Linked DNA regions of Homo sapiens. The protein of the gene in region 1 purifies or fractionates together with the protein of each later gene. This does not show direct contact. Each region holds a gene or a part of one and is shown in the gene's direction. Other genes may lie near its edges.

What was found. Proteins that work in one complex are often made in the same cells at the same time.
Region 2: the proteins of POGLUT1 (region 1) and FBXO45 purify together in Homo sapiens (affinity purification with mass spectrometry; one large-scale study listed by BioGRID and IntAct). This does not show direct contact.
Region 3: the proteins of POGLUT1 (region 1) and RASSF8 purify together in Homo sapiens (co-immunoprecipitation; one large-scale study listed by IntAct). This does not show direct contact.
Region 4: the proteins of POGLUT1 (region 1) and QRSL1 fractionate together in Homo sapiens (co-fractionation; one large-scale study listed by BioGRID). This does not show direct contact.

Annotation. Positions count from the first base shown.
Region 1 is NC_000003.12:119,489,463-119,492,962, forward strand, and holds part of POGLUT1 (protein O-glucosyltransferase 1 precursor), read left to right. Parts: intron 1-1,088; coding exon 1,089-1,256; intron 1,257-2,055; coding exon 2,056-2,112; intron 2,113-2,819; coding exon 2,820-2,976; 3' UTR 2,977-3,500. UniProt on the Homo sapiens protein: Dual specificity glycosyltransferase that catalyzes the transfer of glucose and xylose from UDP-glucose and UDP-xylose, respectively, to a serine residue found in the consensus sequence of C-X-S-X-P-C.
Region 2 is NC_000003.12:196,585,660-196,589,559, forward strand, and holds the end of FBXO45 (F-box/SPRY domain-containing protein 1), read left to right. Parts: 3' UTR 1-3,400; downstream 3,401-3,900. UniProt on the Homo sapiens protein: Component of E3 ubiquitin ligase complex consisting of FBXO45, MYCBP2 and SKP1. Functions in substrate recognition but also plays an important role in assembly of the complex.
Region 3 is NC_000012.12:26,059,682-26,063,181, forward strand, and holds part of RASSF8 (ras association domain-containing protein 8), read left to right. Parts: intron 1-3,500.
Region 4 is NC_000006.12:106,636,078-106,639,577, forward strand, and holds part of QRSL1 (glutamyl-tRNA(Gln) amidotransferase subunit A, mitochondrial), read left to right. Parts: intron 1-3,500. UniProt on the Homo sapiens protein: Allows the formation of correctly charged Gln-tRNA(Gln) through the transamidation of misacylated Glu-tRNA(Gln) in the mitochondria. The reaction takes place in the presence of glutamine and ATP through an activated gamma-phospho-Glu-tRNA(Gln).

The DNA of each region.
Region 1 (3,500 bases):
TAGATGAACAGGTAAAACCAGGTCTAGAGGAGGGCAGTGGTGGTGGGGGTGGCTCAGAGTTAGGAGTGCTAATGACACGCAGAGTAGGAGCTATATGGTGAAAGCAACTCTGGTTGGCGACAGGTGCGTGCATAAGAAATGCTGAGAAGAAGACAGCTTTTTTTGTTTTTTTTTTTTCCCCTGTGGGCAATCTCTGAAAATTGATTAGGTTTTCCTCATTCTCCTCTCTACACCAGGGGTCCCCAACCCCCTGCCATGGTACTGGTCTATTAGGAACCAGGCTGCATGGCAGGAGGTGAGCAGTGGGGAAGCGAGCATTACCGCCTGAGCTCTGCCTTCTGTCAGATCAGCCTTGGCATTAGATTCTCATAGGAGCACAAACTGTATTGTGAACTGTGTATGCAAGGGATCAAGGTTGCGTGCTCCTTATGAGAATCTAACTAATGCCTGATGATCTGAGGTGGAACAGTTTCATCCAAAACCATCTCCCCCACACTACCCATCCATGGAAAAATTGTCTCCCATGAAACTGGTCCCTGGTGCCAAAGAGGTTGGGGACCGCTGCTCTATACTTTAAGAGAAGAGGGTGATGTCCAGGAAGCAGTGGAGACCTTCGACCAGATGGGGTACACTAGAGGAAAAACAAGGCTTTGGGAGGCCATGACTAGTTAGAGACATTAGGCCTAGAAAAGCTTGTGAAATTTTTTTCACTCGTTTTATTTTATGTTTACCATTGAACATTTATTTTCTCAGATATGTTCCAAATCTACAAGCTGTCATTTCCTTCTGAGCCCTGTATACACTCTACCCGGCACCCAGCTCCTGACCCTATCTAGTGCTGTCTGGAGAAAATATCCCCTATTTTTCCTCACCCTGCCATTCCCAGAACAACCTGTAGTCCTAGCCCTGGTAAAGTGGCTGATAGAAACCACTTAGGAACATATTAATGTGTCCTTGAAAACTCAAAGTGGAAAGAGAATGGAGAGGAATCATAAAAGGAAAGAAGGGGAGGGGAGAATAAGCATAAAAGGTCATATTTGTGGCAGCAGGCATATAGTATCAAATGTATTTTGTTCTTTTTTCCCCAGGTATCTGTTTAATTTTCGAGGCGTAGCTGCAAGTTTCCGGTTTAAACACCTCTTCCTGTGTGGCTCACTTGTTTTCCATGTTGGTGATGAGTGGCTAGAATTCTTCTATCCACAGCTGAAGCCATGGGTTCACTATATCCCAGTCAAAACAGATCTCTCCAATGTCCAGTAAGCAGTTATCCCCCAATGCAGAGTTTCTAAAGACCCTTCCAATCTGCTTTTAAAAATGCCTTAATGCCTTAAAACCAGTCATGTAAGACATTTAGTCCTACGATTTTTTTCCATTGAAAGCTTTTTTTCCTCTTGGTTTGCATATATAGTATTGCATTATTATCCAAGTAGGCTATAAGTGGAATTTAATTTGAAAAAGCGCTTTAATACTGGTTTCAAATGAAACGTTCAGACAAAATGAAGTTAAAAAGCTCTAATCTCTCCAAGACTAAAGATAGGGATATTCAATCTTATTATATTGTCAAAAGGATTTTCAGATACAGCATGAGAATTGACTCAAGTGAAGCTTCAGCAAATTTCCTTTCATGACAGGAGGAGCTAGGAAGAAGTATAGAGAAGGGCCAGAGTTATCTGAATATTGTTATCATGGTGATATCTGTGTATATATATTTTTTTTCTATATATAAATATATTTATATATAAATATGTAAAATAATATAAATATCTAATATAATATATAATATAAATATACAAAATATATGTAAATATATAAGGTAACTTCTGTATTTTCTCAAATATGTCCCAAATCTACAATAGGGTATCTTTAATCAGTGTGTGGGGGTTTTTTTTTGTTATTATTTTGTTCTTGAGAGAACCCTGATATCTTTGCTTGAAGGAAATAATCCACCATCCACATACCTAAAATTATCCATAGACCTCAATCTATATCGTCTTTCTGACTTAGTGCCAATGAAGTTGGTCTATATTTCACAGTCTAAAATTCTTTTCATTTTAGAGAGCTGTTACAATTTGTAAAAGCAAATGATGATGTAGCTCAAGAGATTGCTGAAAGGTGAGTTCTGTTCATTTTCCCTTTTCCACTTTACTTTTTGTCATCCCCATTATGCCCTAGCCAAAGTTATCTGAATATTGTTATCATGGTGACATCTGTATTTTATCCTCATTATATGGAGATAATTCAGAACTAAACCTGTCCTGGGGGAAAACATACACACATGTCTACATATGCTTGTTTTAAAGGAAAAAGATGGGCCGGGCGTGGTGGCTAACGCCTGTAATCCCAGCACTCTGGAAGGCCGAGGTGGGCGGATCACCTGAGGTCAGAAGTTCAAGACCAGCCTAGCCATGGTGAAACCCCATCTCTACTAGAAATACAAAAAAATTAGCCGGGTGTGGTGGTGCGTGCCTGTAATCCCAGCTACTCGGGAGGCTGAGGCAGGAGAATCACTTGAACCCGGGAGGCGGAGGTTGCAGTGAGCCAAGATCGCACCATTGCGCTCCAGCATGAGCAACAAGAGCGAAACTCCGTCTCAAAAAATAAATAAATAAATAAATAAATAAAGGAAAAAGATTGTTAAGTTGTATTGCTACATGCATGTATGTGGATATGATTGCCATAGGGTTGGTTCTTGAGGCTCAAATGAATTAATTTATATAAAATGCTGAATAATGCTTGGCACAAGGTGAGCACTCAAATGCAGACTGCTATTATCATTAAATTCTGTGCTTTAACATTTTCTTGTTAAATCTTGTCTCTAGGGGAAGCCAGTTTATTAGGAACCATTTGCAGATGGATGACATCACCTGTTACTGGGAGAACCTCTTGAGTGAATACTCTAAATTCCTGTCTTATAATGTAACGAGAAGGAAAGGTTATGATCAAATTATTCCCAAAATGTTGAAAACTGAACTATAGTAGTCATCATAGGACCATAGTCCTCTTTGTGGCAACAGATCTCAGATATCCTACGGTGAGAAGCTTACCATAAGCTTGGCACCTATACCTTGAATATCTGCTATCAAGCCAAATACCTGGTTTTCCTTATCATGCTGCACCCAGAGCAACTCTTGAGAAAGATTTAAAATGTGTCTAATACACTGATATGAAGCAGTTCAACTTTTTGGATGAATAAGGACCAGAAATCGTGAGATGTGGATTTTGAACCCAACTCTACCTTTCATTTTCTTAAGACCAATCACAGCTTGTGCCTCAGATCATCCACCTGTGTGAGTCCATCACTGTGAAATTGACTGTGTCCATGTGATGATGCCCTTTGTCCCATTATTTGGAGCAGAAAATTCGTCATTTGGAAGTAGTACAACTCATTGCTGGAATTGTGAAATTATTCAAGGCGTGATCTCTGTCACTTTATTTTAATGTAGGAAACCCTATGGGGTTTATGAAAAATACTTGGGGATCATTCTCTGAATGGTCTAAGG
Region 2 (3,900 bases), about 77 Mb from region 1:
AAAATGCTTTTGAATTAATAATCCAACCCACATGAGCTGAGAGTTTTTCTTTTGTTAGAAAAGAAACAGACATCTTTCTGTATGAAAGTATAAATTGTATGGTTTTAGATACATAAGAATTGACAAAAGCGAGCGAAATCTTTGTACTTCTGAGTTCTTGCTGTATGTATGTTTTGTTTTAAATCTGATTAGGGACACCCAGCAGCTGGCCGGGATTCTTGGATTGCTCCTTGGGAGTTAAGATTGTCAATACTCCTGTGAAGCAAGGGATTTCAGCCATAGAACAAAGATTTATTGTTGCCACCTGAAAAGTTTACAAGTATTTATTGTGTATTTGATACATTGCTTGAAAAGATGAAATCTGTTAAAGATTCTTTTCGATGTCCAGGTTAAGAAGAAACCTCCTTGTATTGAGTGAAATTATATGTTAAATGTATTAGAGAATGTAGGTGGTATAGAAATTGATTTTTCTTGGTGTAGAACAACTCAGTTCGGCAAAGTTTAAAATTTGATTAAACAAGAGAAGTGGTTCAGGTTGAAGATGGACTTGTTAGGAAGTGATCAAGTCCTTTAAGTACTTGTTTCTTTTTCAGGTTGTGATGTGGCCATTCCGAATTTTGTTGAGAGTTTGGTTTATAATTGTCTCTTTTGTCTTGTTAGTAAACATTCATTTGCAACAGTTTTGAAGGTGCTGAGTGGAAAACCGAAACACATGGTTATTGCGTATTGGACCTAGAATGAAATAATTGCCTCAATATTTAACAACAAGCCATTCTTATCTCAAAGATTTAAATTCCCGAATGTCCCATTCGCAAATCATATGCAATTGAAGTGAGCAGCATGAGCATCTGGGTCATGAGGGCCTTCATTTACGTAAATTTGTCACTAAAACCCAGTAGTAGCTCTACAAAATCTTAAACTGCTGCAGTGCTCAAGGAGATGGAATATCTTTGTCATTGGTGCTGAGGAGAGCATTTCGGTAGAAGACAGTTGCGCCTGAAGATTGAGTGTAAATCATTCAAACCAGTGGTTCTCAGTGTTGGCTGTATACACTTTGTAGTCACTTTGGAATGTTGGAAGACACATCGATGCTTGGGTTCCGTATGCCAAGATTCTGATGTTGGTCTGGAATATGAGCTGGTCATAAGGATTTTTAAAAACTTTCTGGTCATTTCAATATGCTGCCAAGGTTGAGAACCACTGTTGTAAAATTCACCTTGAGTTTTCTCATCTGCAAAATAGAAAAAAAAAAATCCTTGCTCCCTCCCTTCACTACCTCACAAGGATATTGAGGGTAAAGGAGAAAATAATGGGAAAGTGCTTGTGCCGTGGATGAAAAGTGCTATTAAAAGTCAAAGGAGTGTTCTGTTTCAATTCATAGTATGATCAGGGAAAGTGTAACTGAGTATACTTTGTTGACTTGGGAAACCTGGAGCACTTTCTTTGGTTGGTTAACGAAGCATGCAGATGTGGAAGCAGACGTTACTATTATCCCTACTATGGTCTTCTGTCATACTGAGACAGGCTGTTTTAATTACCTGGTTTTACATAGGAAAGAAGAAATATTAAGGCTTAAAGTTTGTAATGATCAATGGCTCATAATTCATTAAATCTTTTCATACAAGGAATTTGTGGTTAATGTCATTTCATAGTTGCCATTATTTTCTCATTATTTGACTTAAATGTTAAGCCATTTATTTCATCTCCCTCATTCACATAAAGTGTAGATATGGATTCAATAAGACACCAAAAGAAAGTAAGATTTACCCAGTTAATATTTAAAATCATTGTTCAGTGATTAGGCATTTTCTGCCTTTTAGAATTATTTGACTGGAGAAAGAGTTTCAAAAATAGCAGAGCCCTAAACCATAAAGAAACTACTACTGTATAATGAACTTTTGTTTGTTTTTGGAGACAGGGTTTCACTCTACTGCCTAGGCAGGTCTTGAACTCCTGGGCTCAAGCAGTCTTCCTGCCTCAGCCTCCCAAGTAGCTGGGATTACAGGTGTATGCCACTATACCCAGCTTTAACTTTTAAATCCCCAAACTATGTAGATTGTCATATTAATATTAATTTTTTTTTGTTATTTTGAAGAAGTGAGTAATTTGAAGAGATAGAAACTTAGGGAGTGGTGTGTGTGTTTCTTTTTTGGAGACAGAGTCACGCAGGCTGGAGTGCACGATCTTGACTCACTGCAACCTTTGCCACCCAGGTTCAAGCAATTCTCGTGCCTCAGCCTCCCGAGTAGCATGTGCCACCACACCTGGCTAATTTTTTTCTTTTTTCTTTTAGACGGAGTCTTGCTCTGTTGCCCAGGCTGGAGTGCGGTGGTGTGATCTCAGTTCACTGCAACCTTTGCCTCCCGGGTTCAAGTGATTCTCCTGCCTCAGTCTCCCGAGTAGCTGGGATTACAGGCACCTGCCACCATGCCTGGCTAATTTTTGTATTTTTAATAGAGACGGGGTTTCACCATGTTGGCCAGGCTGGTCTCGAACTCCTGACCTTGTGATCCACCCACCTCAGCCTCCCAAAGTGCTGGGATTACAGGCATGAGCCACTGTTCCCGGGCCTAATCTTTGTATTTTTAGTAGAGGGGGTTTATGCCATGTTGGCCAGGCTGGTCTTGAACTCCTGGCCAACACCACCCACCTCGCCTCCCAAAGTGCTGGGGTTACAGGCGCGAGCCACCGTGCCAGGCCAGAAATTTAAGGAGTTTTAAAGGTTAGCATTGAAAAGATTACTTTCCAGAAATTGAGACCACCACAGTTCCACAATTGGGACTGTGGTAGATAATCAGGACCACTTGGAAGCCTTTATTAGGAACAGCCCACACCCAGCCCAAATGCTGTCCTCAAAAACATTCCTCAGTTTCTCTAGCTGAATGTAATCTCTCCTTGAAATTTCCCTAGTTTTATATATCTATAGTTGACTCATGCTGTATTTATTTATACCTTGTTTAAAATTATTTATTGATTATTTATTGGTGTCATATCGCCCCTAAACTGGGACAGGATCTCTAACGGACTCATCTTTGTGCCACAACATGTAAGCCCAATAGGCAGGTGCTCACATATTTGCTGAAGGAACAGAGAAAGAACTGCGGAGAAAGACAAAAGCTCCTCTGAAGTTTTAGACTATAGAAGCAAAAATTATAGTAGCAAAAGATGAATGAGAAATTCTGTTCTAGTCCCAGTGAAGCAGGAAGGAAAGGGTTGCAAACTTGAGGCTGGTAAGGAAGAAATAATTACTGTGAATGCATTTAGCCACTCCCCTCTACTCAAAAATACTGGTAAACTCTGATTTTTATATTTGTTTAGAATTTAAATTAGAATTCTGTATCTTTATTTTTTGGAATTCTGTTGTTTTGCCTTAGTTTCTTAATAAAAAGTTAAACATTAACCACCTGTGATTGCTTACATTTAAAGACATTTTTTACACATTGGTTAGAAAGAAAAATTGGGGTGCCTTAATAGCCAGAGGTGGTGATGGAATTTACCTATAAATTCCATGGCTTTAATAATAGAATCCACATTCCCCATGTTTAGAATGGAAAGTGGACAGAGAACAGTAATTCACTAGGGTCTTATTTCCCAATTGCCTCTACCGCCCCCCACCCCACCCTCCTGCTGACATTTGTTTGATAATGCAGTTGTTTGCCAAGAATTATGAGAGACAGGCATGCTATTCCTGAACTGGCTGAATACACGGCTCCTGTGATCCAAAAGCTTAAAAGAGAATCAGTTGATGATGTTGCTAAACAAGTTGGCTGATATGTTAAAGTTCAAAGCATTTTAATTTTTTTTTTTTTTTTTTTTTTTTTTTTTTTTTTTTTTTTTTTTTTGAGACAAAGTCTTGCTCTGTCACCCAGGCTGGAGAGCAGTTGATGTGCTCTCGGCTCA
Region 3 (3,500 bases), on another chromosome or scaffold:
TTTATTTTAATTAGCTTCTGTATTTTCCACATCTGTAGAATATTATTTTAATGAATGTTAATACATGTTAATTCATAGCATGCATCAGTCAAGATGGGTTAGATTATGCTGTGTTAACGAACAGCTCCCAAAATCTTCTGGTTTGTAGTGTTTTCTACTTATTTTGGTTTATATTTTTTTAACGTAACCAGCACAATGCCCAGTAAATCACAGGTACTCTGTAACTGTTTTTTTGAGACGGAGTCTCACTCTGTCACCCAGGCTGTAGTGCAGTGGTGTGATCTCCGCTCACTGCAAGCTCCGCCTCCCAGGTTCACACCATTCTCCTGCCTCAGCCTCCCGAGTAGCTGGGACTACAGGCACCCACCACCACGCCCAGCTAATTTTTGCTATTTTTAGTAGAGACGGGGTTTCACCGTGTTAGCCAGGATGGTCTCGATCTCCTGACCTCGTGATCTGCCCGCCTCGGCCTCCCAAAGTGCTGGGATTACAGATGTGAGCCACCGTGCCTGACCACTATTTTTATTATGTTTAGTAGTAGTGAGCTTATCATATAATTCTAAGTAGACAGTAATTCTGTGATTACATGATATACACTGGGAAGATACACTGTGGATGATGTAACTATGGTTTGAATGCACAACTGGCTGACAGGTATATTCAGAGATAATTTTTTATTGTATCACTGTTATTCTAAGATATACTGTGGGGTAAGAGTTATTTTAGTAGTTTCACTCAGAACTTAAATAGTATAGTAAAAAAATAACTAAATGTCATCAGAAAATTACTTAAAATTCTTTAAGCTTTTATTTCTTCACTGATAAGATGAGGATCGTAATATCTATACTGCTTAACTCACAGAACTAACTAAGATGATATATATAAAAGCATCAAAAGCATTTTACAGGCTATAAGATAATAAAGTGTAAGTTCTGTTACAGAGATCAACGCTTACTGTAAGAATTCTAAGTCATTACGGAAAAAGCTAGTTGTGTTCACTAGAGTTTGCATAAGAGTCCTGGACTGTGTAATGTATTTTACAAAATTTTCATTAAAATATTTATAGCTCAAGAAGCAAAATATCTACTATCAGAAAAATTCAGTGCTGTTGGATAGCTTATCCTCCATAGATAAAGAATAAGTCAGGTGTTACTGACATTATTTCTCATATGTCCAGAAACCTGAAGATATGTTAGCATTAAATTCATAAGAGATTAGTGCCATTTCTTTGTCATGTTCTTTTGAATAATGTCCAATATTCATCTTTGGGGTGTGGAGGATTTGGTACTGAAGAAAATATCAAATGTCAGTTAAAATGAAGACTCCAGAGGGTTGGTGATGAAGATGTTTAGTAGAATCTATTTCTCTAGAGCCTGGCACTGTTTCTGACACATATGTGGTGTTCAATATACATTTGTTAACTAAATAGCAAGATGTAACTTTTAAATCATGATTTTGATTTATGACTGTAAGGAGAAATTTCCTAAAATTATAAAAATTGTTGGAGTATTAAAAAATGGTTGAATTCAGGGCATAAATTTCTGAGTGACCCTTGTTTGAGTTTTGGTGTGTATTTTCAAAATGTTATGTTACTTTATAGTTGTGTATTCTGCTTTCTTAAGTGAAAGTAAGCTGTTATCCTGTTTTCTTTTAATTTATGTCAATCAGTCATTCAATAAGATCTCATTAATGCATTAAAATCTGTATGTAAGTTTCTTCAGTATATAAATTTAATGATTCTTGGGATTAGTCTCAGTTGCTTCAATATTTAAAAGTATAATTAATATTTTTTACCCCACTAAATTGGATCGAAATTATTTGATAGTGTCACACAGTCCTACAATGCAAAAACAGCTTAAACTACAAATGCCATAGATAGACAGACAGACAGATAGATATTCCTTTTTATTCATTTTAAGATTACATCAAAATAGTACAGAAGGTTTAACTGAATGTATCCATGTGGTCAAATACGCTAAAAGGAGTTTTGCAGGAGGAATCAGAATCTGTGTAAATGAAGGAAATAGAATCTGTAGAGTGCTGCCAAGTTATGGATATTAAAAACAGCGATTGTGGAATTTAATTCCTATATAAAATATTTAAAACCCAATTTATATAATAAAATCAAATCTATTAATTCATTTGCCTTTTTTAAAAAAAGCTTTTTTATATTGCTGGATGGAATTTTTTGACCCAGTGGTACTAAATGTGCATTATTTAACAAAAGCCAATACTGGCAGTAAAAGCAATTCTAAATAACCTTCCAAGACATTCTCAGAGGGTAGCAGTACCAGTAAGCACTGGAAAATTAGTTTTATTTTTAATTATGAATAAATTAGGGTCTTTAAAATATTTTGTTTAGTTCATATAATGTGATGATTCGGTTTTCCTTCTAAAGATACTTCATTGGGCTGATAGAATTGGAAAGAACTCTACCGGTTTATCTAACCCCTCCTGTTACCGAAGGAGGACACAGAGGTTCAGAGAAGAGTAAGATTCCTAAAAGCAGTTGATAGGCATAGTGCTATGACCTTTGAAGCAGTTTGTACACATGGGACAGTTTTAACATTGCAGATGTGTCATGTGGTTTTTCTTTGGGAGCAATTAGAGTAATTTTTAACCTGAAAATCATTGGAAACATTTTTTATTTCAAGAAGCTAATCTATTGTGCTAAGGTTTTCTTTTTCATCCCCCTTATTAGCCTGGGCATTTTGATAAATGTAACTAATATTATCTAGCACTTTTCAATTTCACAAACATATTTATATTTTACATTCTCACTTGAGTCTCAGAACCACCTTGTCAGATAAGGCAATACTACTCTTATCCCACAGATGAGGAGACTGAGGCTAAAGGAAATTTAATTGTTCAGATCATGTAGGTAAGCACAGTAGGAGGCAGAGCCACATTTGAACCCAGACCTTTCTACTCCAGAACCTTTGTCCCATCTCTGTCTAGTTTACATAGTTGGAAGTTGCTTTTTAAAAGTCAGATTGTTGGGCAAGGGAGGGGAAAAAATAAATAAATAAATAAAAGATCATTGTGATGACACATCACTATTTAAAGGAATTCTGTGGTCAGCCCTTTTGTTATAGGAAAAATGTCTTACTAGCTACCACGTGTTGAATGCCTGCTGTGGGCCAGGCAGTGTGGTAGGTGCTAACCCTCAGAATCTGCGAAGCGTTTTAGAAGGGAAGTTGTGCTGCTTATCTAGTAAGTAACTCACGTAGGATTGTTTGCCTCCAAAACCCCAACTTCCAGCTATACCCCAAATTCAGGTTTCCCTAAAGGAGAACACACTCATATGCTTATAGCAAAATCATTTTTTAATGTGCTCCTCATGAATTACATACATGGGTGTTGATATTTACACATCTAGATTTCCATTTATTGATGCAGTAATTGCAAAAATACTACTATTGGCTCAGAAGCTCATGAAATTTAAAAAAGAAAGCCAGGAAGGTAAATCAATCAATAGCTGTTTATACAAGTATAATTGC
Region 4 (3,500 bases), on another chromosome or scaffold:
GTGTGTTCAAAGGAGATGCTCACTGGAGCATTTTAGACTGGAGATTTTTGGGTTAGGGATGCTCAACTGGAAAGTATATAGTGCACATAGAGTACTCCAAAGTCTGAAAATATCCGAAATCTAAACACTTCTTGTCCCAAGCATTTTGGATAAGGGATACTCACCCTGTAGTATAGTAAGTAGTTCAGAGCATGAGTTTTGGAAACAAGATGAGTCCTCGGTTGAATCCCAGCTCTGCTACTTTTTTTTTTTTTTTTTTTTTAAGACGGAGTCTCGCTCTGTCTCCAGGCTGGAATACAGTGGCACAATTTTGGCTCACTGCAACATCTGCCTCCCGGGTTCAAGCGATTCTCCTGCCTTAGCCTCCCAAGTAGCTGGAACTACAGATGCACGCCACCACGCCCAGCTAATTTTTGTATTTTTAGTAGAGACGGGGTTTCACCGTGTTGGCCAGGATGGTCCTGATCTCTTGACCTTGTAATCTGCCCGCCTTGGCCTCCCAAAGTGCTGGGATTACAGGCATGAGCCACCGCGCCCAGCCAGCTCTACTGCTTTTTAGCTATGTGACCTCAGGTAGGAACTTCAGTTTTTTTATCTGTAAATGGAGATAATAATAGCTTCTCAGTGTGGATGTAAAGATTAAATGATATATTAAGCACTGAGGACAATGTCTAGAACTAAGTACTAGCTATTATTAACATTAATTTTGTTACAGGGACAAAATTACTAAATTATATGTATTTGCATTTTTCCCTTCCTTTACTTTCTAAGAAGAGTGGTTCCTGAGCAAGATTTTAAAATTTTTCTAAGGAGGTATATTAGTTGTCTATGGCTGCATAAAAAATTACTATAAACTTTGTGGCTTAAAATAACATAATCTCAGGATCTCACAGTTTTCTGGGTCAGAAGTCAGGGCATGGAGTAGCTGGGTCCTCTACTCAGGGTCTCACAAGGCTGAAATCCATGTGCTGCAGTTGCACTGCAAGGTGTTGCTAGGGCTAGAGTTCCATCTGGAGCTCCAGCCCTCTCGACCTCGTTGGTTTCTGGCAGAATTCATTTCCTGTGGTTGTGGAACTAAGGTCCGATTTTCTGCTGGCTGTGTGGATAGTAAAGTAAGTGAGCTGAAGGGCTGGAGACATGGGATGGCTGGAGTTGACATTTTGGAGATCAAACGGATGTTAGTAATGATGTATATAGTCTAGACAGTGACCAGGAGAGTTGGCAACTGGGGTGAGGTGAAGGAAAAGCTTGTGCAAAGTGAGATCAAAGAACTGAAAAATCAGATGTTGGTGTACATGGACTTGAAATATGATGTGAACAAGGGAGAGGATAGGAGCAATAGTAACAAAGATGACAGTGTGCTAGCCAGCAAAATTGTCAATGAATGAAAAGTAGTACCAGGAAGGCTATAGGTCAGCATACTGGGGAGCGTGGTGTCATCTCCCAAGGCATGTGCTTTGGGTGAGCGGAATGTTTGAGAGAAGAGGGAAGAGAAGCATTGAGGAACAAGGAGATCATCTTTCCCCTCTCCCACTCTGGACTCTGTGGTATGTGGTAGGTAGGCACTAAACAGGAGAAGCAGCGGCTGCCAGGGAAGACCTAGTTTCCATTAGAGAAAAGATGTGCCAGAGAGAGAATTTTTTTTCTTTTAACGAAAACTTAAAAGTTAACTTCGTTTTATATTCAGATTTGACACCTGCAGTTTTGTCCTGGGGAACTGTATATGTGATTTATGTTTCCTGCTTCTTATGCTCAGTCCATTTAGCTGATTAGCATCTTTGTTTTCACTTCTCTTCTCCACTTCCCTTATTGATTTTTTTTCTCAAATCTAGAGTTCCTAAAAATGGTCTTAATGCAAATCGGCACCATTTAAAGTGAATATCCTAGACAATCTTATTTCTTGCTGTTCAACCACAATTGTAACACCTTAGCTTTTATCCTTATACCAGTCTGGAAGCAGCTTGAGGATTGTAGGCATTAGGGGACTTGAGAGGAGTCAAGGAAGGAGAGAAAGTGGCAAATGCAGTTTTCCTCATTGTTACAACTTAGCCATGGGATGGGCCTGCCTACGTATATTTGTCTCTCTAGCTCTGGGTTTTTGTTAGTTCTAACTCTCTTCCACCCAGCCTACTACCATCTTTGTTCTTCCCATTCCATATACATGATGTTAAAACGCACTGCTCTCTTTTATTCCTTCTAGCTTCTTTCTTCTAGAGGGTTTACATTTCTTTTTTTTTCTTTTTTGAGACAGAGTTTCGCTTTTGTTGCCCGGGTTGGAGTGCATTGGCACGATCTCACCTCACCGCAACCTCTGCCTCCCGGGTTCAAGCGATTCTTCTGCCTCGGTCTCCCGAGTAGCTGGGATTACAGGCATGCACCACCACGCCTGGCTAATTTCGTATTTTTAGTAGAGATAGGGTTTCTCCATGTTGGTCAGGCTGGTCTTGAACTCCCAACCTCAGGTGGTCTGTCCATCTCGGCCTCCCAAAGTGCTGGGATTACAGGCGCGAACCACTGTGCCTGGCCAAGGGTTTACCTTTCATACAAACCATTAGACGAACTCTCTCTTCTTGTTACTATAAAAGTCACTTCCTTAAATCGGACCTTGCTGCCCTCCTTATCCCTGCAGCAGTCCTGCAGCCTCCCCATGGAAGTCCTTTTCCTCTTGTCGGTGAGCATTAGGGATCCTCTTGATGACCTCTTCCCACTGCTTGTTGCATTTAAAACCCTCAGCCCCAAGAATGCCATTGCGTTGATGATTTACTCAGTAGCTAAGAGCAGATCATTTGGAGATTTTCCCCTCAAATGCAAACTTCTGTTGCTTTATGGAACACGTGAAAACACTGTCAACTTGGAGGACAAACTAAGCTTCCAATAGAGTAGAGATAGAAATGGTGAAGACTGTATATTATGAGGTCACCTTGTCCTTTACTATTTGTGTGACTTTGGGCAAATCACTCAAGGTTTCTGAGCTTCAGTTTCTTTATCTGTCAAATGAGATAAACAGTACCTAACTTGTGTGGTTATTTGTGTGTTTTGTTGTTTTTTTTTTTTTTTTTTTTTTTTTTTGACAGAGTCTGGCTCTGTCACCAGGCTGGAGTGCAGTGGCGCGATCTTGGCTCACTGCAACCTCCGCCTCCCAGGTTCAAGTGATTCTCCTGCCTCAGCCTCCCAAGTAGCTGGGACTACAGGCACGTGCCACCACACCTGGCTAATTTTTGTATTTTTAGTAGAGACAGAGTTTCACCATGTTGGCCAGGATGGTCTCCATCTCCTGACCTTGTGATCTACCCGCCTTGGCCTCCCAAAGTGCTGGGATTACAGGCATGAGCCACTGCGCCCGGCCAGTGTGGTTGTTTTAAGGGTTAAATGAAGTAATAATGCATGTAAAGCAACAGTGCCTGGCTCTTGGAAAATACTCGGTAAATACTATTCCTTCCCCTATTCTCCTTTTCTCTCAGCTCCCATCTAATTCAATTATCTTTTCATAAAATCTCCAA